Linked DNA regions of Homo sapiens. The protein of the gene in region 1 interacts with the protein of each later gene in a biochemical or structural test. Each region holds a gene or a part of one and is shown in the gene's direction. Other genes may lie near its edges.

What was found. The genes of interacting proteins can lie anywhere in the genome.
Region 2: the proteins of CHEK2 (region 1) and PPP2R5B form a complex in vitro, tested with the Homo sapiens proteins (one study listed by BioGRID).
Region 3: the proteins of CHEK2 (region 1) and PPP2R5E form a complex in vitro, tested with the Homo sapiens proteins (one study listed by BioGRID).
Region 4: the proteins of CHEK2 (region 1) and SIAH2 form a complex in vitro, tested with the Homo sapiens proteins (one study listed by BioGRID).

What each region holds. Positions count from the first base shown.
Region 1 is NC_000022.11:28,728,321-28,731,820, reverse strand, and holds part of CHEK2 (serine/threonine-protein kinase Chk2), read left to right. Parts: intron 1-1,272; coding exon of another isoform or gene 1,273-1,401; intron 1,402-3,500. UniProt on the Homo sapiens protein: Serine/threonine-protein kinase which is required for checkpoint-mediated cell cycle arrest, activation of DNA repair and apoptosis in response to the presence of DNA double-strand breaks.
Region 2 is NC_000011.10:64,927,689-64,931,188, forward strand, and holds part of PPP2R5B (serine/threonine-protein phosphatase 2A 56 kDa regulatory subunit beta isoform), read left to right. Parts: intron 1-113; coding exon 114-215; intron 216-377; coding exon 378-470; intron 471-606; coding exon 607-737; intron 738-2,633; coding exon 2,634-2,693; intron 2,694-2,792; coding exon 2,793-2,901; intron 2,902-3,500. UniProt on the Homo sapiens protein: As the regulatory component of the serine/threonine-protein phosphatase 2A (PP2A) holoenzyme, modulates substrate specificity, subcellular localization, and responsiveness to phosphorylation.
Region 3 is NC_000014.9:63,393,378-63,396,877, reverse strand, and holds part of PPP2R5E (serine/threonine-protein phosphatase 2A 56 kDa regulatory subunit epsilon isoform), read left to right. Parts: intron 1-161; coding exon 162-292; intron 293-1,592; coding exon 1,593-1,652; intron 1,653-2,949; coding exon 2,950-3,058; intron 3,059-3,500. UniProt on the Homo sapiens protein: The B regulatory subunit might modulate substrate selectivity and catalytic activity, and might also direct the localization of the catalytic enzyme to a particular subcellular compartment.
Region 4 is NC_000003.12:150,740,625-150,743,397, reverse strand, and holds the end of SIAH2 (E3 ubiquitin-protein ligase SIAH2), read left to right. Parts: intron 1-699; coding exon 700-1,257; 3' UTR 1,258-2,273; downstream 2,274-2,773. UniProt on the Homo sapiens protein: E3 ubiquitin-protein ligase that mediates ubiquitination and subsequent proteasomal degradation of target proteins.

The sequences.
Region 1 (3,500 bases):
TGCAGGGGCTCTCAACTGTAATCCCAGCTCTTAGAGCAGCAGAGGTGGGAGGATAGCTTGAACCCAGGAGTTTGAGACCTGCTGGGCAATATAGCGAGACCCCATTCTCCACAAAAAGGAAAAACAAAAAAAGACAAGTAAACAAAGATCCTGATAGGATGACCAGCATAAAGTAGGTGCTGAATAAATAGAGACTGTTTATCATTATTATTATTATTATTATTTGAGACGGAGTCTCACTCTGTCACCCAGGCTGGAGTGCAGTGGTACGATCTTGGCTCACTGCAACCTCAATCTCCTGGGTTGAAGCCATTCTCCTGCCTCAGCCACCTGAGTAGCTGGGATTACAGGTGCCCACCACCGTGGCTAAGTTCTGTATTTTTTAGTAGGGACGGGTTGTCATCATATTGGCCAGGCTGGTTTCAAACTCCTGACCTCAGGTGATCTGCCCGCCTTGGCCTCCCAAAGTGGTGGGATTACAGGCGCGAGCCACCACGTCTGGCCGAGGCTGTTTATTATTATTATTTGTTAATTATTTATACCTATGTTTTCTTTTAAAATTTTACAGTTTTAATTCCTTTTTTTAAATTTTTGTTTGTTTGTTTGTTTGTTTATTTTGAGACAGGATCTCACTCTGTCATCCAGGCTGGAGTGCAGTGGCACAATCTCAGCTCACTTCAGCCTCTGCCTCCCAGGCTCAAGCAATTCTCCCACTTCAGCCTCCTGAGTAGCTGGGACCACAGATGTGCACCACCACTCCCAGCTAACTTTTTGTATTCTTGGTGGAGATGGGGTTTCATCATGTTGCAGTCTGGTCTCAAACTCCTGAGCTCAAGCAATACATCCATCTTGGCTTCCCAAAGTGTTAGGATTACAGGCATAAGCCACAGTGCCTGGCCTAGTTTTAGCTCTTATGTTTAATTAAGGTCCTTTATTCATTTTAAGTTTTATTTATTTATTTATTGAGACGGAGCCTTGCTCTGTCACCAGGCTGGATTGCAATGTCATGATCTCGGCTCACCGCAACCTCCTCCTCCCGGTTTCAAGCGATTCTCCTGCCTCAGCCTCCCAAGTAGCTGGGATTACATGCTTATGCCACCATGCCTGGCTAATTTTTGTATTTTTAGTAGAGATGGGGTTTCACCATGTTGGCCAGGCTGGTCTCGAACTCCTGCCCTCGGGTGATCCACCCGCCTCGGCCTCCCAAAGTGCTGGGATTACAGGCATGAGCCACCGTGGCTGGCCTAACTTTTTTATTTTTATTTTTTGTAGAGACAGAGTCTGGCCATGTTACCCAATCTGATCTTGAACTCCTGCTGTCATCTGATCCTCCTGCCTCAGCCTCCCAAAGTGCTGGGATAAGAGGTGTGAGGCACCATCCCCGGCCAGTTTGCAGTCTAAGTATGATGTTAGCTGTGGGTCTTTCCCTTTCCCTTTCTCTTTCCCTTTTCCTTTTCCTTTCCCCTTTCCCCTTTCTTTTTTCCTTTCCTTTCCTTTCCCTTCTGCTTTCCTTTCCCTTCCGCTTTCCTTTCCTTTCCCTTCCGCTTTCCTTTCCTCCCCTCCCCTCCTCTCCTCTCCTCTTTTCTTTCCTCTTCTCTCTCCTCTTCTCTCTTCCTCTCTCCTTTCTCCTCTGATATCTGAAGACTAAGCTGTGGATGTTTCATAAAAGTTCTTTCTGGGGTGGGTGCAGTGGCTCATGCCTGTAATCCAAGCACTTTGGGAGGCTGAGGTGGGCGGATCACAAGGTCAGGAGATCGAGACCATCCTGGCCAACATGGTGAAACCCCGTCTCTACTAAAAATACAAAAACAAAATTAGCCGGGCGTGGTGGCAGGAGCCTGTAGTTCCAGCTAGTTGGTGATAGAGTGAGACTCTGACTCAAAAGAAAAAAAAAATGCTTTCTGGCTGGTTGCTCTGACTCTTTCACCCTATAATCTCAGTGCTTTGGGAGCCTATGGCAGGAGAAGTGCTTAAGGCCACGAGTTGGAGACTGCAGCAAGCTATGATTGCAGGCCACAGAGCAAGACTTTGCCTCTAAATTAAAAATAAATAGATAATAAATAAAATAAAAGCTCTTTATTAGGTTGAAGGAGTTTACTCCTATTCCTAGTTTTCTGAGTATTTTTTGTTATAAAAGGGTGTTGCATTTTGCCAAAATTTTTTTCTGTGTCTATTTTCCTATATTCTATTGTTATCGTGTATTATATTAATTGGTTTTCAGATGTTAAACCAACCAAGCTTTCCTGGGTTAATTCTTTTTTTTTTTTTTTTTTTTTTTTTGAGATGGAGTCTCGCTGTCGCCCAGGCTGGAGTGCAGTGGCGTGATCTCGGCTCACTGCAGGGTCTGCCCCCTGGGGTTCACGCCATTCTCTTGCCTCAGCCTCCCGAGTAGCTGGGACTACAGGCGCCCGCCACCTCGCCCGGCTAATTTTTTGTATTTTTAGTAGAGACGGGGTTTCACCGTGTTAGCCAGGATGGTCTCCATCTCCTGACCTCGTGATCGCCCGCCTCGGCCTCCCAAAGTGCTGGGAATACAGATGTGAGCCACCGCGCCTGGCGTCCTGGGTTAATTCTTGTTTGGTCATTTGTAATCTTTTTTATGTGTTGCTGGATTTAGTTTGCTACTGTTTTGTTGAGGATTTTTATATCTATATTCACAAGGGATATTGGTTTGTGGTTTTACTGTGATGTCTCTGTCTGGTTTTGGTATGCTGGCCTCATAGATGAGTTGACAGTGTTCCGTTCCGAATTTCTTCGAAAAGTTTGAGAATAATTGGTATTAGTTCTTTACATATTTGATAGAATTTAAAATGAAGCCAGCCGTGTGTTTCTTTTTTCTTTTTTTTGAGACAGGGTCTCACTCTTACCCACGCTGGAGTGTTACCCACTATCACGTTTCACTGCAGGCTTGACCTCCCAGGCTCAACTCCTACCTCAGCCTCCTGAGTAGCTGGGACCTCAGGCATGTGCCACCATGTGTGGCTAATTTTTTTATTTTGATAGAGATGGGGTGTCCCTATGTTGCTCAAGCTAAAGTGAGGCAATCTGGGACTGCACTTTTCTTTGTAGGGATATTTTGATTACTCATTCAGTCTTTTGTTTTGTTTTGTTTTTTTGGAGACAGAGTCTCTCTCTCTGTCACCCAGGCTGGAGTGCAGTGGCACAATATTGGCTCACTGCAGCCTCTGCCTCACAGGTTCAAACGATTCTTGTGCCTCAGCCTCCAGAGTAGCTGGGACTACAGGGGCGCGCCACCACACCTGGCTAAATTTTTTTTTGTTTTGTTTTTAGTAGAGACGGGATTTTGCCATGTTGCACAGGCTGGTCTCAATCTCCTGAAGTCAAGCAATCCGCCTGCCTTGGCCTCCCAATGTGCTAGGATTATCATTCAGTCTTTTCACTTCTTATGGGTATATTCAGATTTTCTGTTTCTTCTTGTGTTAGTTTTGGTAGTTTGTATCTTTCTAGGAGTTTGTCCATTTCACCTATGTCATCTAATA
Region 2 (3,500 bases), on another chromosome or scaffold:
AGAGCGAGACCCTGTCTTGGGAAAGAAAAAAAAAAAAAAAGCTTTGAATGAGAGACTCCCTGGCTTCTGTCTTCAAGGGCTTTTCCTTAATGAACCCCAACTCTGCCACTCAGATCTCAGTGAATATCTTCCGGACTCTGCCGCCCAGTGAGAACCCTGAATTTGACCCTGAAGAGGATGAGCCCAATCTTGAGCCTTCGTGGCCACACCTGCAGGTCTGAAGGGTTGGGGAAGACAGAGATCCAAGTTTCAGAAGAGATCCAAGGCATGGGGAGAGGGCCTCCTTAGCCCCTAGACAGTTGGATGAGGGCCATAGGGTGGAATGAGTGGGTGAGGCTGTTACTGAACTCACCTTTTTGTCTGTCCCCCTCCCCCAGCTGGTATATGAGTTTTTCCTGCGTTTCTTGGAGAGCCCAGACTTCCAGCCCTCCGTGGCCAAGAGATATGTGGATCAAAAGTTTGTCCTGATGGTGAAGTGGGGAGCCCAGGCTGGGTGGTACCACAAGGCAGGGGCAGGCTCTCTGAGGGGCCAGGGATAGGATGGAAGCAACCTGGGGTGGACCTTTCCCCTGACCCTGACCCTGACCCTGACTCTGGTTCCCACAGCTCCTGGAGCTATTTGATAGTGAGGATCCCCGGGAGCGTGAGTACCTCAAGACCATCCTGCACCGGGTCTATGGCAAGTTCCTGGGTCTCCGGGCCTACATCCGCAAACAGTGCAACCACATCTTCCTCCGGTGAGTGGCTGCTGCCTGCCCAGCAGAGACCTGGGGAGGGTGAGAGGGCTGTTAGAAGACTGCGGCAAAGGCCATGTGCGGTGGCTCACACCTGTAATCCCAGCACTTTGGGAGGCCGAGGTGGGTGGATCACCTAAGGTGAGGAGTTTGAGACCAACCTGGCCAACATGGTGAAACCCCGTCTCTAATAAAAATACAAACATTAGCCAGGCATGGTGGTGGGCACCTGTAATTCCAGCTACTTGGGACGCTGAGACAAGAATTACTTGAACCCAGGTGAAACCCCGTCTCTACTAAAAATACAAAAAATTAGCCGGGCGCGGTGGCGGGCGCCTGTAGTCCCAGCTACTCGGGAGGCTGAGGCAGGAGAATGGCGTGAACCCGGGAAGCGGAGCTTGCAGTGAGCCGAGACTGCGCCACTGCAGTCCGCAGTCCGGCCTGGGCGACAGAGCGAGACGGATGAACCCAGGAGGTGGAGTTTACAGTGAGCCGAGATCATGCCACTGCACTCCAGCCTGGGCAACGGGGAGACTGTGTCTCAAAAAAAAAAAGAAAAGAAAACAAAAAAAAAGAAGACTGCAGCAAAGGCTCCTGGGCTGCAGGGGCCCTTGTAGAACTTCTGTTTTCCAAGCCCTTTCTCAGTAACGTATTACATATTGATTATACAAAGCCTGTGAAGTTGACAGAGAATGGGTATTTATTTCCATTTTACAGATGAGAAAGTAGAGGCCAAGAGAGATGAAATGGTTTGCAGGGACTGGGTCAGTCCAGGGGCCTAGGAGCTAAATCATTTGACCCTTATCATGCCAGGCCATAAGGACCCAGAGAGAGATTCTTTCTGCAAACATGCACTGAGCACCAGCACCCACTGGGCATCAAGGCTCACGTGGCCTTGTAGTTGAGACCATGGCTCTGAAGCTGTATGGCCTACATTTGAGTTTGGTTCCAACGTTTGGGTGAACTTTGGCAAATTACTTAAGCTCTCTCCTAGTTTGCTCGTCTTTAAAATGGGAATGCTGGCTGGGTGCAGTGGCTCATGCCTGTAATCCCAGCACTTTGGGAGTTGGAGGTGGGCAGATCACTTGAGATCAGGAGTTCAAGATCAGCCTGGCCAACGTGGTGAAACTCCGTCTCTACTAAAAATACAAAAATTAGCTGAGTGTGGTGGTAAACACCTGCAATCCCAGCTACTCAGGAGGCTGAGGCAGGAGAATCGCTTGAGCCTGGGAGGTGGAGGTTGCAGTGAGCCAAGATTGCGCCACTGCACTCCTGCCTGGGCGACAGAGCGAGATTCCATCTCAAAGATAAGATAAAAATGGGGATGCTGCTTGTACTAACTCAGGGACCATTATCGAGGTGACATGGGGCCTTGCCTGCAAAGCACTCAGCATAGCTCCTGGACTGAGGCCGGGACTCTGAAACATTAGTTGTTATTAGCTACAAAATGGGTGAGCCATGATCCCTGTCCTCCTGCACCTTGGAGTTCATTAGATTCCCTGCCTATTAACATTGGGGTTGTTTTATTTAACCGCTGAGTCTTGATTTCTTCATCCATGTGATGGATTTCTTAAGCCCCATCTCCCTGGATAATTCTGAGACTTACATGGTACGGAGTAGATGTGCTAAGTGTTTGTCATTCTCTTGGTTGACTGGCAAGAGAGCCTTGAGCTTGGGACTCAGTGGCAGAGGTGGCTGGGCTGAGAAGGGCATTTCAGTGTGGGGGGGCGGGGATCTCAATGGGGCCTGGTTTGGGATGTTGGGAAGGGAGCGCAGCCTCTGGGTTGGGGGAGAGTTGGATGAGCGTGCCGTGCAGGTGAGGGTGGGCAGGCAGGATGCCTAAGGGGGCACTGGGCCTACCCTGCTTGCTTTGAGCCCACCTGCGTTCTTCTCTTGCAGGTTCATCTATGAATTCGAGCACTTCAATGGTGTGGCTGAGCTGCTGGAGATCCTAGGAAGGTGATTCTCCCTGGGCCTCAGCTGGAGCTCAGGATTCTGGAAGGAGGGACTGGGGCCAGGTCACCTGAGCCCTCTTCCTCTCTTCTGCCTCCTCCTCAGCATCATCAATGGCTTTGCGCTGCCCCTGAAGACGGAGCACAAGCAGTTCCTGGTTCGCGTCCTGATCCCCCTGCACTCTGTCAAGTCGCTGTCTGTCTTCCATGCCCAGGTGAGGCCCAGGCCTGTCCCTGCTGCAGCAGGAGCTCCAGACAGTCAGGGCAGCCAGTGGGTCCTGGAGGTCAGATCCTCCAGGGATCCTATCTCACCTTCTTTGTCTTTATAATTCTGTTCCATCTACCTTAGAAAATTCCCACTGGCGCTTTAAGGCTAACCTCAGATATCAGCTCTGTGAAGCCAGGCTTTTCTTCTCTACCCTCCCTTGGCAGAATTACATTCTTCTCCATCTATATTCCCAAATATTTGGATACACAAATCTATTATGGGAGATTTTGATACACAATTTTTTTTTTTGAGACAAAACCGTACTCTGTTGCCTCAGCTGGAGAGCAGTGGTATGAACATGGCTCACTGAAGCCTCTACCTGCTGGGCTCAAGCAGTCCTCCCTTCTCAGCCTCCCGAGTAGCTGGGACCACAGATGTATGTGCCACATGCCTGGCTAATTAAAAAAAATTTTTTTTTTGTAGAGACAGTGTCTTGCTATGTTACCTAGGCTGGTCTCAAACTCCCAGGCTCAAGTGATTCTGCTGCCTCGGCCTCCCAAAGTGCTTGGATTACAGGCGTGAGCCACCACACTAGCCATATTATGG
Region 3 (3,500 bases), on another chromosome or scaffold:
TTGTTTATCATGATATGCCCAAAGACTAGCACTGTGCTTGGCACATAATAGATATTCAACACATTTTTTGAGGAAGGAAGAAGGGGATTTTAAATAATAGAATTCCTAAATCCTTTTCTGAAACCGCCTTTGACAGCTATAATGTCTTTCATTTACAACAGCTTCTGGAGCTATTTGACAGCGAAGACCCTCGGGAACGGGACTACTTAAAAACAGTCTTACACAGAATTTATGGCAAGTTTCTTGGTCTTAGAGCATTTATCCGAAAACAGATTAACAATATTTTTCTAAGGTAAGTGGAGTGTGATGGGGGAAGAAGGAGAAGCAAAGTTGGTGTTTTTATGAGTATTAAGTAAATCTCAAATATCTGAAAACGGTGTACTGACTTCTCTTTCTCCCTTTCTGCCTGCCTTCCTTCATTCTACTGACTCTCCTGCCTCTTCCTCTACCCCCTCCCCCTCCTCTCCTCCCCCATCTTCTCCTCTCCTCCCCCATCTTCTCCTCTCCTCCCCCATCTTCTCCTCCCACCCTCCTCTTCCTCCTCTTTTCCTCTTCCTCTCCCTCCTCCCCCCACTGCTTCTTCTCTATCCCTCCTCTCCCCCTACTTTCCCCCTCCTCTTCCCTCTCCCCTGCTTTTCTCCTCCCCCTTCTCCTCCTCCCCCATCTCCTCCTCCTCTCCTCTTTTCCTCTCCTCTCTCCTCCTCCTCCTCTATCCCCTGTCCTCCTCCTTTCTCCCTCCCTCTCCTCCTCTCCTCCCCGCTCTCCTCCTCTCCTGCCCCCTCCCCCTTCTCCTCTTTTCCTCCCTCTCCTCCTCTCTTCCCCCACCTCTCCCTCCCCCATCTTCCCCCTCCCCTCTCTTCCCCCCTTCTCCTCTCCTCCCCCGTCTCTTCCCTCCTTTTCTCCCCCTCCCCCTTCTCCTCCTCTTCTCCTCCCTGTCCTCCTCTCTTCCCCCACCTCTCCCTCCCCCATCTTCCCGCTCCCCTCCTCTCTTCCCCCCTTCTCCTCTCCTCCCCGACTCCTCTCTTCCCTCCTTTTCTCCCCCTCCCCCTCCTCCTCCTCTCCTCCTCCCTCTCCTCCTCTCTTCCCCCCATCTCTCCCCCGTCTCCTCCTCTCTTCCCCCCTCCTCCTCCCTTTTCCCTCTGCTCCTCCTCCCTTCCACCCTCTCCTCCCCCCTCTTCTCCCCTCTCTCCTCCGCTCTTCCCTCCTCTCCTCCCCCTCTCTCCCCATCTTCTCCTCCCTCTCCTCTCTTCCCCCATCTCTCCCCCATCTCCTCTCTTCCCCTCTCTCCTCCTCTCTTCCCTCCTCTCCTCCTCTCTTCCCTCCTCTCCTCCTCTCTTCCCTCCTCTCCTCCTCCTCTCTTCCCTCCTCTCCTCCTCCTCTCTTCCCCCCTCCTCTCCTCCTCCTCTCTTCCCCCCTCCTCCTCCTCCTTCTCTCTTCCCCCTTGTCCTCCCTCTCCTCCTCTCTTCCCCGCTCTCCTCCTCCTCCTCCTCTTCTCCTCCTCCTCCCCCTTCTCCTCCTCCTCCTCCTCTTTTTATCCCTTCCTTCTCCTCCTCCTCTCCTCCTTTCTCCTCCCTTTTCTCCTCTTCTCTCAGGTTTGTTTATGAAACAGAACACTTCAATGGTGTAGCTGAACTGCTGGAAATATTAGGAAGGTGAGCACGGTTTTTCTAATTGCTAATCTCAGATGAATATTATTTTAAAAATTAGGTTCAGGTGGCACCAAGAGATGCTCACCTAGTTCTCTTGCTGTATGTACATTGGGTCTCTCTCATTTGTGCCTATTAGCATATTTTCCAGCTGACTCTACAAGACACAATTTCCTGTTCCCCTTGTTCCACAAGTATGCATTGCCATTTCCACTGGAATGACTGAAAGAGCTGACAGTTCATTCATTACTAGAAAGATGGTACATCTAATTGTGGTCAGGCTAGTTACTCCAAAACATCTTATTCTCATTAGTTTTTAGGCTATCTGGTCCTTTGCCTTATCTGTTGAAAGCAAGTTTATAATAAATTGGAAAGATTGCCATTTTCAAAGGAGTTGTGTATCCAGGTATAGTCCTTGAACAGCTGCAGCCTGGAGTAGTGGAATGAATTGGAAAGAGCTGTGGTGTAAGTTTCTACACACAAGGGAGGATAATGTAGCTGGACAATATGATTACTTAATCTTTTCTCCTAATATGAAGAGAAAAAGAAGGTGGAGTCACATGGCTTTCTCTCAGTGATTTCCCTAGGCTGGGCAGAGGTTTCAGGAATGAGAAGGAATGATGTCTGGAAATGGAAAAGGTCATATTTAAGGCGGAAGCAAGCAAGGCGGGCCATTATTTGGAGAAGGAAAAGGGAGGGAAAATAAAGGGTTTTGATAAAGAGCTTTTGGAAACCATCTGACTAATTTTAGGAGCACAGGAGCCTTTGTTGGGTGACCAGAAGCAAATTTTCTTCTCTTAAATTTCCTTCCAACTTTTTGTATTCCTTGAAGTCATTAAGAAATCCTGGCTGGGTGTGGTGGCTCACGCCTATTATCCCAGCACTTTGGGAGGCCAAGGTGGGCAGATCATTTGCAGTTAAGAGTTCTAGACCAGTCTGGACAATATGGTGAAACTCCTTCTCTACTAAAAATACAAAAAAATTAGCCAGGCATGGTGGTGGGTGCCTGTAATCCCAGCTACTTGGGAGGCCTGAGGCATAGGAATAGCTTGAATCCCGGAGGCGAAGGTTGCAGTGAGCTGAGATTGGGCCACTGCACTCCAGCCTGGGCAATAGAGCAAGATGACTCTGTCTCAAAAAAAAAAAAAAAAAAAAAAAAAAGGAAATTCTGAATGCCACTGGGGTGGGTATTATGTTGTTTTGTACAAACAAACTGATTAAGTTTAATTAATATCACAAGAACAGTTTGTCTCAGTTCAACTTGTGGTAACATTGCTAATTTGTGTCTCTTTTTTCTCCCTAGTATTATCAATGGCTTTGCTTTACCTCTTAAGGCAGAACACAAACAGTTTCTGGTGAAAGTATTGATCCCTTTACACACTGTCAGGAGCTTATCACTCTTCCATGCACAGGTAGGAGGATTTTGTACAACTACTTTTAGAAGCAAAATAAAAAGTTTGCAAACTCGTTTTTTTGATATTGATATAACCTTCATTTTGTTTTTTTGGTTTTTGTTTTTTGAGACGGAGTCTTGCTCTGCCGCCCAGGCTGGAGTGCAGTGGGACAGTCTTGGCTCACTGCAGCCTCCACCTCCCGGGTTCAAGCAATTCTTCTGCCTCAGCCTCCCGAGTAGCTGTGACTACAAGCGCACGCCACCATGCCCAGCTAATTTTTGTATTTTTAGTAGAGACGGGGTTTTACCATGTTGGCCAAGATGGTCTGGGTCTTCTGACCTCATGATCCGCCCACCTTGGCCTCCCAAAGTGCTGGGATTACAGAGGTGTGAGCCACGGCGCCGGGCCTATCGCCTTCATTCCCAAAGGAAAGAGACTTACTTAAGTTTAAAATACTCCC
Region 4 (2,773 bases), on another chromosome or scaffold:
GTTAAGTAGCTCTTGGATGTGATTTCCTTCCACCCAAAAAATATGGGCAAAGCCCCCCAGAGGGAAGGTCAAAAGGATGCAGTGGGGTAATATTTCTAGCTGTATGAAGGGGTCTCCAGGCCTCCGCTGCCCTAGCCTGGTGATGCCAGCAGCAAAGAGCAAGGAACCAAAGGGCAGCCTTCCCCACGGCCTGCCTGCCAGTCACCAGTTTGAGCCAGAAAGCAGTGGAGGGGGACGACAGAATTATACTGTTGTTAATATTGTCTATATGTGAAAACTAATCTTGGGATAATATAATATTCCTTGCCCAACCCCATCCCCACCACCCAAGCAATTGAATTCTTTAAAAAACAGCTTCACAGAAAATATGGGGAAGACCAGCTTTTATAGGGCTTGCTCAACAATTTTGAGATGTGCACAGTAAGAGAACTTTAGTTCTGATCCCTTTGACAGCGGAACAGGGGGCATGGAAAACAGCGTATTTCTGGTTCAGGAAATACCCTTCATTTTATGCATGACAGCATTGATGATGAATAGAGACGGAGACTTTTAGTCTTGAATATTTCACTTGCTTTGAGCAAAAGTAGTTAAGAACACAGTTTAAGCCCAGGAAAATGGAGTAGTTAAGTACTCATAGAGGGTTGAAGCAATAGAAGTTTTGAGAAGGCCCAATGGCTCAATGCATTTCTTTCTTTGCAGTATGCCACCACGGGCTGTTCCCTGACCCTGCACCATACGGAGAAACCAGAACATGAAGACATATGTGAATACCGTCCCTACTCCTGCCCATGTCCTGGTGCTTCCTGCAAGTGGCAGGGGTCCCTGGAAGCTGTGATGTCCCATCTCATGCACGCCCACAAGAGCATTACCACCCTTCAGGGAGAAGACATCGTCTTTCTAGCTACAGACATTAACTTGCCAGGGGCTGTCGACTGGGTGATGATGCAGTCATGTTTTGGCCATCACTTCATGCTGGTGCTGGAGAAACAAGAGAAGTACGAAGGCCACCAGCAGTTTTTTGCCATCGTCCTGCTCATTGGCACCCGCAAGCAAGCCGAGAACTTTGCCTACAGACTGGAGTTGAATGGGAACCGGCGGAGATTGACCTGGGAGGCCACGCCCCGTTCGATTCATGACGGTGTGGCTGCGGCCATCATGAACAGCGACTGCCTTGTTTTCGACACAGCCATAGCACATCTTTTTGCAGATAATGGGAACCTTGGAATCAATGTTACTATTTCTACATGTTGTCCATGATGTGACTTTCGTAAACCTTCAAAATTATTTGGGCATAGTGCTCTATGTTTAATAAAGGTTTTTATAGATGTTTTATTCCATATGTCTTCACAAGTCAGGACCCACAATTACCCGTGTTTTGTTTGAACAGCAGTGTCCCATCTGGCTTCGACCCAACAAAGTTCATTAACCTGGGATGAATGGGGTTGGCCTGTTGGTGATTTGGATGCTGTTCTGTGATCTAAAACAACTCTTATTGAATTGTATTTACTCCCTAAACAACACTTGACAGGCTGTTGCACAGGGCTTCTATAGATCAGTGTGTTAGGAATGGGAGGCCCCTTCCTGCCTGCCTTCCCATATTGGTCCCTTGACATTGACAAAAGCACAGTGACTGTCAGCAGATTCCTTTACTTTTGTTTGTGGGAGGTAGGAATTGTTTTAATGCATTTTAAACAGTGTTTCTGAAATTGGATGGCTGGCTAATAGACACTGAATCACCCGGAGTGCTTATCTTAAAATTGCAGATTTAGGGAGCCTGCCAATTTAACAGTCTCATCAGGTGATTCTTTTCAACAGTAATGTTTGAGAATTACTGGGTTAAATTGTGGGAAAGGGTCCAGATTTTAAAGGTGCTTTAAGGTTGCCCTCTGCCGATACTGTTTGTCTTTCTACTGTTTCATCCCCTAACTTCCCCCAACCCTCAAATTAAAACTAGAACTATAGATCCACATGAACGCACGCCTGAGATTTGGCCACTCACCTATGTTTTGGGTGGATTGCCTAGGAAAGCAAGTCATATGGCCATTGATAGTTCTCATGTAATTAGTTTTGCTCACCACTAGTACAGATGACCCGTTTACACGTGGCTTCCCTCGGAAGCCCTCCTCAACAGTAGCTGGTGTGAAAGACTAAATCAGTAGAGTTGGAAAAGCTTTATAACCGGTGTGTCATATGCTTGCTATTTAAAGCTGTGTGTTGGTTTTGTTTTTCTGCCACATTCACTAGTTTTTTAATAAATATTTTCCAAAAATGGATATTGTGCTTCATTTCCCTAATTGAGTAATGGGTATTTATTGAGCATCTACTGTGTGCAAGTGCAATGAACCTTCGTCACTACATCTGGGGTTGGAACTTTCACTGTTTGTTTCCACTGTGGAAACAGTCATTGGGCCAAGGTCATGGCACGGGTCCATGACAGCACTGGGGTCCGGGCTCATGTGTCTGAACCACTGACTGTCAGTGCTGCAGGTCTCCTCCCAGGGCTGTCGTTTCTATCTGACAGTGCCAGTACCTGTGCAATAAGAGGATTGCTCCAGCTTTACAGAGTCAGAAGGAAGACGCTTGGCCACTGCTGACATCCAGAGTGCTGGCGTTGATCCAAGCTGACCCACTCCCTCAGTCCCAACCCTAAACTCTCAAAAGAATTTAGAGGATTAGGGCCAAATGCTCAGCAAGGATTGAAGGCTGCTTACCTCAGTGTCCCAATTTCTTTCTTTTTTTTTTTTTTTTTTTTTGAGACAGAGGCTGGAGTGCA